Homo sapiens: one gene and its partner. The protein of the gene in region 2 interacts with the protein of the main gene of each other region in a biochemical or structural test. Each region holds a gene or a part of one and is shown on either strand. Other genes may lie near its edges.

Evidence for each region.
Region 1: the proteins of TRIM41 (region 2) and PRKCA form a complex in vitro, tested with the Homo sapiens proteins (one study listed by BioGRID).

Annotation. Positions count from the first base shown.
Region 1 is NC_000017.11:66,804,753-66,809,637, reverse strand, and holds part of PRKCA (protein kinase C alpha type), read right to left. Parts: 3' UTR 1-4,885. UniProt on the Homo sapiens protein: Calcium-activated, phospholipid- and diacylglycerol (DAG)-dependent serine/threonine-protein kinase that is involved in positive and negative regulation of cell proliferation, apoptosis, differentiation, migration and adhesion, tumorigenesis, cardiac hypertrophy, angiogenesis, platelet function and inflammation, by directly phosphorylating targets such as RAF1, BCL2, CSPG4, TNNT2/CTNT, or activating signaling cascade involving MAPK1/3 (ERK1/2) and RAP1GAP.
Region 2 is NC_000005.10:181,232,017-181,236,680, forward strand, and holds the end of TRIM41 (E3 ubiquitin-protein ligase TRIM41), read left to right. Parts: intron 1-642; coding exon 643-873; intron 874-1,396; coding exon 1,397-1,419; intron 1,420-1,619; coding exon 1,620-1,747; intron 1,748-2,157; coding exon 2,158-2,759; 3' UTR 2,760-2,915; coding exon of another isoform or gene 2,916-3,074; 3' UTR 3,075-3,337; coding exon of another isoform or gene 3,338-3,388; 3' UTR 3,389-3,792; downstream 3,793-4,664.

The DNA.
Region 1 (4,885 bases), on a different chromosome or scaffold from region 2:
AGGAGCATGGGAAAATCTGGCAGTGGGAGATCAGGTCGGGGGTGCTCCAGCTGACCCAGGCTAAGTCCTCCTACAAGCTCCAGGGCATTGGAATCTTAGGAAATCGTCAGTTGCTTTGTTCTAAAAACTCATTTTTAAAGAATTATTATTAAAGTTCTCTATAAAAAAGTACAAATAGCCCAGTATATTCAGTTGCTCTACTGGAATTAACAAATAATTTCTTCCTTTAGGTTAAGAAAAAGTCTTTGGAATTTGGGGGCTTTTGTGTAGGGTCACTGTAAGGCTGTTGGATGGCTGAGTGTGACCTCCACGGTTATTAACTGTCACCTGATCACATAAATGGGAGGCACAGGGGTCAGAATCCTTCATACTGTTGACCTTCCCGAAGAATCCCTGACACTACGGAATTAACACAATTGTGGTTGACCCCATTTCTAGATGATGGCCTTCATCCATGTGTGCGTCAGGTAACCTTCCCAATTTCCTGGATCTTCTAGCAGCAGAAACAGGTAACATTCCCTGGATCTGCTGCATCAGCCCAAATGGGAGGAGACAGGAATGTTGACCGTCCAGTGTATTTCACATGTAGCCCAAGCAGCTTAAGGAAAATGACTTTAAAAAAATATTTTGGCTGGGCGTGGTGGCTCATGCCTGTAATCCCAGCACTTTGGGAGGCCGAGGCAGGCAGATCATGAGGTCAGGGGTTCAAGACCATCCTGGCCAACATGGTGAAACCCCATCTCTACTAAAAACACAAAATTTAGCTGGGTGTGGTGGCACGCACCTGTAGTCCCAGGTACTTGGGAGGCTGAGGCAGGAGAATCGCTTGAACCTGGGAGGTGGAGGTTGCAGTGAGCCGAGATTGTACCACCGCACTCCAGCCTGGGCAACAAGAGTGAAACTCCATCTCAAAATAAATAAATAAATAAATAAAAATTTCGCAACACTCCTTGTCAAATTGGTGTGTGGCCACTAACAACAGAGCACCCTTGTCCTTCCTGGTGACTGTCATGCCTACTGCTGTCCCGGTAACTCTCATGATCACACCCTTTGGGCCCCTGGCTCAGTGTCTGTTTTGTGATTACGATTGTCTGGTGTGCCCAGCAGGGGAAACAGGCACTCCTACCCTTGTCGGGTTATAAAGAAACAGGAAATGGTGTGATGTGCACACACAAGAAATAGGTGACTTTAGAAGACCAACGTGAGAAAATGACTGTCAGATGGTATCACCTTTCCGAGGCTTTTAAAAATACAAGATTGTCACTTTTTCTCTTTTCAGTACTGAGAAAACAAATTCCAGCAAAAAAAAAAAAAACAGGAACAAAAACAAAAAAAACCCTCCGAAATGTCTCCTGCTAAGTGGAACCCAGGTGGGAACTGCGGTGTTAGTTGTTAGTTGTGCGGTGTTAGTTGTTTTTACTTCTCCATTCATCCTCAGCTGCCATAATTCTTGGCAGGAAGCCAGAGAGGAAAATGGGCAGGAACCTACTGGCCTCTGGGGTACACTGGATGGTCTGGCTCTGCCCAGAGAACTATGAGCTACTTCAAGGTGGGGAGGGGAAAGGGGCTTCTAGCAGCTGGTGGGGATGTTGTTAGCATTTGGGGGGTGTTTTCTGAGGAGGAACAGACTGTGTCCCTGGCAAAACACTCTCTTGAGGGCCAGCAGACAGAAACTTCCATCTGCACCAACCACCTCCGATGGGAAGCCGTTGACGGTGGCACCCCTTCCTCTCCCTCCTACTGCAGGCATATTTCTGGATGCACCCAAACCCTGTTCTTCTCTGGCTCCTTCCTGACTACAGCCCCCGCCTCCCTCTCCCTTCTCAGCACGTCCGTTGGGGGGGCTCTCTGGAAGTCTGCATCCTCCTTCCAGGAAGTCACCACACTCGCCTAAGGACTTTGGCTCCGAGAGGTGCTCAACAATCATTTGTTGGGCTGCATGAACCTTGGTCTTTCCGGCCAGGCTTCCAGAGCTCTTGGCCCCATGGTTTTCTATCAAAATTCTGAGTAAGAAAGCCTAATACGTGGCATCAGAAAGGGCAGACAGTGGCCCTGCATGGACCACACGAGGCCAGTGGATGAAAGGAAGGGAAGCACTGCCGGAGCAATAATTTTGACTCCTGTGGTTTCTGATCTGCCTTTTGAATTAGTTCTTGCCTGGATGTGGGCCTCTCATTAACCTTGGAGGGCGGCCCCTGGCAGCACTCCAGTGACTTCCTTTCAAACCCAGCACCTGGTGACCTTCAATTGAAATGCCAAGAGACGGGCTGCCAGCCCACGGCCTGCAGCCTCAGGGAAAGGCCCTGCCACCGAGGAGTGGCCACCTTCCAAGGGAAGATAATGCAGAGCCATTTGAATGGCCTGGTGTGGTCATAGCTCCATGGGTCCTGCGGGGATTCGGACGGTGCTAGATTCTGCCAGGCGGCCTAGACCTCCACAGGCCCTGGCAATCAGGCAGTGCTCAGGGGCAAGGACTTCCCAAAGCATCCCCCAGGGACCTCCTGCGTGGCTGCGGCAGTTCCACAGCGCACCCCTCGCCACCATCTCATTTCACACAATACCCACGAAGGGGCCAGTACCATAGAATTTTATGAACTGATTCTGAGGCGAGCCATTGCTCATGGTTATCTACATGACAGTCTTCCAACAATAACTGTCTTTGGCTGCTGAGATCTGGAAAGCCCTAACCATTACCCACATTCAACACTCAGCAATGGATAAAGCAGGTTCCACATGACAACACTGCACCGGGCCCTGATTTTGACTGTTTCTCTCTGGGGGTTTGTTCTGATGTCTGTTGTCCCTCAGGCAGTGTGCTGGGCACCCCTGTCGGGGCATTTTCTTGGAAAACTTTGCCATATGGTCTGAGAGAGTAACAGCCAGCTGAGACAGTGAATGTGTTTCCTAGAGAAACAAACTTGTGGGTGTTGGGGTTGCAGGGAAGGCCTAAGCCTGCTGCCTGCTTTAAACAGGCAGGCTGTTTGGGGTGCTGAACAAGGGTCCCTAACCTCATGTGTTCCTCCGTGGGATCTTCCTCCTCTCTGGGGGGCCTCGTGGGGGTCTGTCCTGCTGCTGCTCCATTCTGGGCAGGGGGACTGGCCCTTTTGTCTCCTAGGCTCTTTCTATAAACCAGTCCCTTTCCCCTCGGATCAAAGGAGGAGCACCTGGTCAGGACACGAACCCAGATCATGCACTGACCTGCAGGGCTGCAGGGACAGGGGAGCCAGGACCCCCTGGAGTCTCGATGTCTATGGTGCATAAAAGATGGCAGAAGAAATGGTTCTTTTCTGGCCGGGCCCGTTCCCTACCCCGTCTCTCCTTCTACTCAGGGTTGCCAGGACCACCTGGGCCTCTCACCTCAAAAAGCCTTTCATGGTTGTGTGTTCTGTGAACTTCAGGCAAACAGCCAGAGGAGAAAAATAATGCGAGCTTAGCTGGGAGATGCTTCTGGGAGGAAACAGAGCGGCTCTCTACAAGGACTGACAGCTACTTTCATTCTGTTTCTGTTTGTGGTAGAACCCGGCTACTCTGAGGACCTTGCATGGGGGTGTCTCACCAAAGCAGCGCGCTCCTCCCAAGACTGGAAAGGCCAATGCCACAATGGCTGGAAGAAAGTCCGCAGCCTCTGAAAAGCACGTGCTGGTGCCTGCAGGGCACGGCTGTGTTGGTCTCACGAAGTTTGTGCATGCTGGAGCAAACGACAGGTCGTTGCAGAGGCAGCAAGACAGCATGCTTCCTGCGTGTCCAGTACACACAGCAAGAGGGGAGTCTCCCCATCCCTCCCACCCCTGGAGTCAGCAACAGTCACAGGCTGAAGGGAAGAAGGAAACACACACACACGCACACACAAAGGTCAGCCCAGGTGCTGCGGCAATGCCACGTGTGTACCAACGTACTAGGCAGACTGGAATCAGACACTTCCTGTTGTCCCCAAGAGGAAGAGTGGCGGAGGAACCAGGACGAAAGGTGACATGAAGAAACTAAGAGGGAGTGTCAGCTCAAAAATAGTCCTCACCAATAAAAATTTGTTTGCAGGTAGAATCAAATACATATATATACACACACATATGTAGTAAGAGCCTAATCTATCACGTAAACTAGCCATTCATTTTTGAAATTTTATCTACATTTAAAAAGTAATCTATCTGATACAGTGCCCATGTGCAGGGAGGGAAAGCACAGAAGCAAGGGATTCAGCTAAAACTTAATTAGAAAAGAGGATTAGAAACAAGAACCTGCACAAATAGAGCACAATTGTGTCTTATAAAATTATTATAATACTCTCTTTATACTTGATACGATTATATCAATAATATAGATTCACTTGTTATTAAGGTTTATTATAAACATGCAAAATTCATTGCATGATGCATTTGCAAAACGTATTAAAATCCTTCTATTAACAAAACATCTTTGAGCTGTTAGGCATCCGGGTTTCCTGATTCTACAGCTCCAGGCCTGTCATTCAACGTGAACTAGAAATGGGAACCAAAACCATATTCTTTTTATCCCTAAGTGGACATCCAGGGCTAGAGAAGGGAGGAAAATCAATCGGTAGAGGCTGATGCTAGAGTCAGCACTTCCATTAAGTTACTGTACATCGTACTTTCATAAGCGACACTGCAGCCTATTAAATAAATAAGCACAAAAGGGGAGAGGGCGTACACTTCAGCTTCTTGAGAAGGATAACAAGGTAGGCAGCAAAATGTTGGTGTGTGTGGGGGTGGGTGTTGGTGAACAACACTGGTGAGTAGTGGCATGATTACTGATGGCACCCTGGATGGAAAAATAATCTCCCAGAGATTAAAATGAACATATGTACACACTGGCTTATCCTTGATCTGAAATGATTTCACACGCTTGTTCAGCAACGTCCTTAGACGAT
Region 2 (4,664 bases):
CAGAAAAAGTTTTTCCGAGTTCTGATCTGGGGCTTTTGGGTGACTTTCTTAAGGTCACTGTGTTTAATGGCGTCGGGACCCTAACTTCATGTTTTGATTCCTGAATTCTTTTATTTATTCATTTCAAAAATTTTTACCAGGTGCCTACTCTGATTGGTACTATGTCAGGGTCCGAGGACCCTGGCAAACAAAGACATTCCTAGTCCCTGTCAGTGGGAGCTCATGGTACAGTGGGGGAAAGGATGTTAACAGTTACGTCATTTAAACACAACGTTTCAATATTATATGTGCCACAGAGAGATACAGTGATATTTGTGGGGATGGTCCCGATTTAGATCTGGAGAGGAGGGAAGGCTTGTCTTGGAATATTTAAGGTTGGACCTGAAGGATGAGTCAACTTAGGTAGAGTCAGGTGGAGAGGAGTGTTCCAGGCAGAGGTTAGTGAGTTTGAGACCACTGTGCTGGGAGCAAGGGGGTGGTATCTGGTAAGGCTGGTAGGGGATGAGCCTCTTTCCGGGACTATCTTGGACCTGGGGAGTGTAGGGCTCCTTTGCCTTGCATTGAGAAGTAGTAGTTGCAAAACTGGAGGTTATCTTCGTACGTGTTGAGGTGGTGTCTGCCATCCCCTTTGCACCATTCCAGAGCCAGATGAAGTCAGAGCTGGCAGCGGTGGCCTCGGAGTTTGGGCGACTGACACGGTTTCTGGCTGAAGAGCAGGCAGGGCTGGAACGGCGTCTCAGAGAGATGCATGAAGCCCAGCTGGGGCGTGCGGGAGCCGCGGCTAGTCGCCTTGCAGAACAGGCCGCCCAGCTCAGCCGCCTGCTGGCAGAGGCCCAGGAGCGGAGCCAGCAGGGGGGTCTCCGGCTGCTCCAGGTGAGCAATGTCCCCTCCCTGTTCCCCCAGCATTCTGTGTTGGCTGTCAGGCAGTGCTTACCAAACGCCTGTCCAGAGCTGCCTCTTTTCTCCCTGGGAGGAACCCACAGTGATTGAACCTGAAGACCAAAAACATGTTTTAAAGCTGGAAACAGAGTTAATGTCGAATGTGGTATGTGTGGCGATTATACCCAGTGAAAAGCATGAAGATTCGGTTGTAGGAGAGGTTTAAATGACAGTTGAGGAAAGTCTTTTTGACAGTGACATCCTGAAAAAGGTGAGCAAGTCGTATTGTGGAAATGACAGTATCCCTGGGCTCACAGCAGGATGAGGCGAGTTAGGTATGGCGAGGCATGGGGTGGTTGAAATGGATGTGTGTTCATTGAGGGCCGTGAGGGTGCTGCTTCTCCCTTCCTGCTCAGGTTCAGTCTCTGACTGGAGATCGGGGAACGCTGTCCCTGTGCAGCTGACACTCTCTTTATCTCTTTCTCCCTCTCCCTCTTTTTGTTTCTCTTATTCCCAGGACATCAAGGAGACTTTCAATAGGTGTGTTCCCAGTCTTTGCCCTTCGTGACCCAGTGGCATCTGGTTCCCTGTCCCTGCTTCTCTTCGGTATCCCTCTCCTCTCCTTCCTTCCCCAGGACCTGAGTTTCCATCTCCTGGACCCTCCTCTCCTTCCCCTCAGCTTTTGCTTTTCCCTCTGGGAATATCGTGGTCCCACCCCCTGCCCGGTCCCCTTCCTCCAGGTGTGAAGAGGTACAGCTGCAGCCCCCAGAGGTCTGGTCCCCTGACCCGTGCCAACCCCATAGCCATGACTTCCTGACAGATGCCATCGTGAGGAAAATGAGCCGGATGTTCTGTCAGGCTGCGAGAGGTAGGGAGGTCACCTCCACGACCTTCCTTTGCCTTTCCCTTCACAGACCTGAGACTGGGTCCTGAGGGAAGTTGGGCCCCAGGGAAACTGTGGGGCTTGAGATGGAGCAGGATCCAGGCAGCCACTCTGAGGTTGAGGTTTCAAGCCATGAGCAGGTAGACCTAGTGCAGGCAGGCCTGGAGGGTGGGGTGGGGTGGAGTGGCAGGAAGAGCCAGGCTGGGGGAAGACCTGTCAGGTATCCTAGGAACAAGAGTGAGGAGCAAGATGAGCCTGCAGGAATCTGAGGCTGGCCTCTGGGATGGTGTGGGGAGCTGGATTCAGGGAGAAAGGGGGCCCAATCTGTGGAGTTGGCTGCTGACAGGGGAACAGCCGTTCCAGCCCTGGCGTATTTGTCCTCCCTCCCTCCCAAGTGGACCTGACGCTGGACCCTGACACGGCTCACCCGGCCCTGATGCTGTCCCCTGACCGCCGGGGGGTCCGCCTGGCAGAGCGGCGGCAGGAGGTTGCTGACCATCCCAAGCGCTTCTCGGCCGACTGCTGCGTACTGGGGGCCCAGGGCTTCCGCTCCGGCCGGCACTACTGGGAGGTAGAGGTGGGCGGGCGGCGGGGCTGGGCGGTGGGTGCTGCCCGTGAATCAACCCATCATAAGGAAAAGGTGGGCCCTGGGGGTTCCTCCGTGGGCAGCGGGGATGCCAGCTCCTCGCGCCATCACCATCGCCGCCGCCGGCTCCACCTGCCCCAGCAGCCCCTGCTCCAGCGGGAAGTGTGGTGCGTGGGCACCAACGGCAAACGCTATCAGGCCCAGAGCTCCACAGAACAGACGCTGCTGAGCCCCAGTGAGAAACCAAGGCGCTTTGGTGTGTACCTGGACTATGAAGCTGGGCGCCTGGGCTTCTACAACGCAGAGACTCTAGCCCACGTGCACACCTTCTCGGCTGCCTTCCTGGGCGAGCGTGTCTTTCCTTTCTTCCGGGTGCTCTCCAAGGGCACCCGCATCAAGCTCTGCCCTTGATTATCCTGCCACCCGCAGGGGCCCCTCTGTCAGCACTTGGGGGGTGGGTGGTGGAGGGTGGCCCGTAAGTTTGAGGGCTCAAAGGCTCTTCCCACTGCTTGTTACTGTGTTGCTTCCCACTCCCCCTTGACCCCAGGCCCCTGCTTCTCCCTCTAGGAGCCTAAAGAACCCTCCTGGCCTCCAGCTCAGCCTTCTCTCACCTACTATGTCTGTCCAACAGGTCTGCATGGGTCCCTGATAATGAGAACAGCTGCCTGGTCTTCTCTCCCAGTCTGCCTAGCCCAGCCCTGGGACTGGAATTTGAGTAGGGGATGAGGGGAAATTGTAATTTCATTCCTTAACTTCCTTTTCCCCACCCCTGCTCTTCAACCTCTTTATCAGTTCTGAGGCTGGAGGGTTTGGGCAAGGCAACATCCCCATTCCAATTCCATTTTCTGATGCAGATTTTAGCTGAGGGATTTGGAAGCCATTTGGGGAGGCAGGCTGGGCCAAAGGGTAGAGCTGGGTAATAAATGTCTATTCTCCTGGGGAGGAGGGATTCTAAACTTTCCTTCCGTCCTCAATTTCTACCTCCATAGACCGGCCAGAATTTAGCTTCACTTGAGAGAGATCTGGAATGGTCGCCATGATTGAAACCACGCACCATTACATCATCATTACATTAATTACATCAACATAAATTATTTCTTCCCCCTTCCCTTTTCCAGCACTCAACCAAGGAGCAAAGCTCATCCCACCCCACACCCCTCCCAGGTCTGCTCACTGCCAGGCTCCTCTCCCCTTTGTTCAGTGGAGCTGGCTTTTCTCCCAGCCCCTTTCCATGCCTTTCACTCCATTTGGCAAGCTCTGAGGGGGAGCCTGGGGACGGGTTTGGGTCCCCAGGAGGAGAGCCTTGGGTATAATCTATTTTTCTAGGAGCCTCTTGCCTTGTCACTTGCAGCTTTCGCCCTCTGCTTTGATGGCTGAGGTGAACTCATGTTCTTTGGGAAAAGGGAAGGCGTGCTGTGGAAATAAAATGTTTATTTGCTTCTCTTGTGAGGTCTGTTCCTTCAGGTGAGGGTGTAACTCAGGATTTCTTCCTTTGCCGCCCCTGCAGTGAGAAGCCACACAACTGAACTGGTTAGTTGCAGTTAAAGGCATGCTTTGCACCTGTTACCAGGCAGGCTCCTATTTCAACAGGGATGTGGACCCTGCTCCCCATTTTAATATCTTAACCTAACTTACTAACTGTTCAGTCTACTTAGAGATGTTTGCCACACGTAGTTGAAACTGAAGCCAGAAATGCCTCATCACCATTATAAATTGAGGGGAGTAGGAAGTGGAGGGTGCATGTGGGCCTTCAATATGCTGTAGTTGCTTAGCACAGAAAATTGCAAGGGTAGTGGGGTCTCAGCCGCATGTTGAACCATTCCATCCCTGTACTGAGGTTTCTATTGGAAACTGTAATTGTAGTTTAATGGCTCACTTCTGGCCTTTCACAAGGCATCTATCCTCATGAATAAACTGTGTTTGTGTGTAGGGGGATTGAGGGCCAGGTTATAGTAGCAGTTGAAATGTTTAGTAGGGCCAACTTTATGGTTCTATTTATGAATGCTTCCAGACCAACCACCCCAAAACTTTTGACCTGAGGAATAAATTAGTTTTGAATTAAGTTCTTCTGGTGAGAACTGCCTTGCTTAAAGAATTAAAAACCCTTGACTTTCCTCAAAGACCATGTTGACAGAGACTGCTAACATGAAGCTTAAGTTTTCTGAATTATGTTCAAATCTTTAGAGGAATGAGGATTCATCTTCCACTCTTACGTGTCAGGGGTTGGACCTGCGGAGTCTGCTTTTTCTAAAAATTGACTGCAACCACTTTGAAATCAGTTCTTTCCCTCAAGAAGGTTCCCCAGGTTGAAGGTAG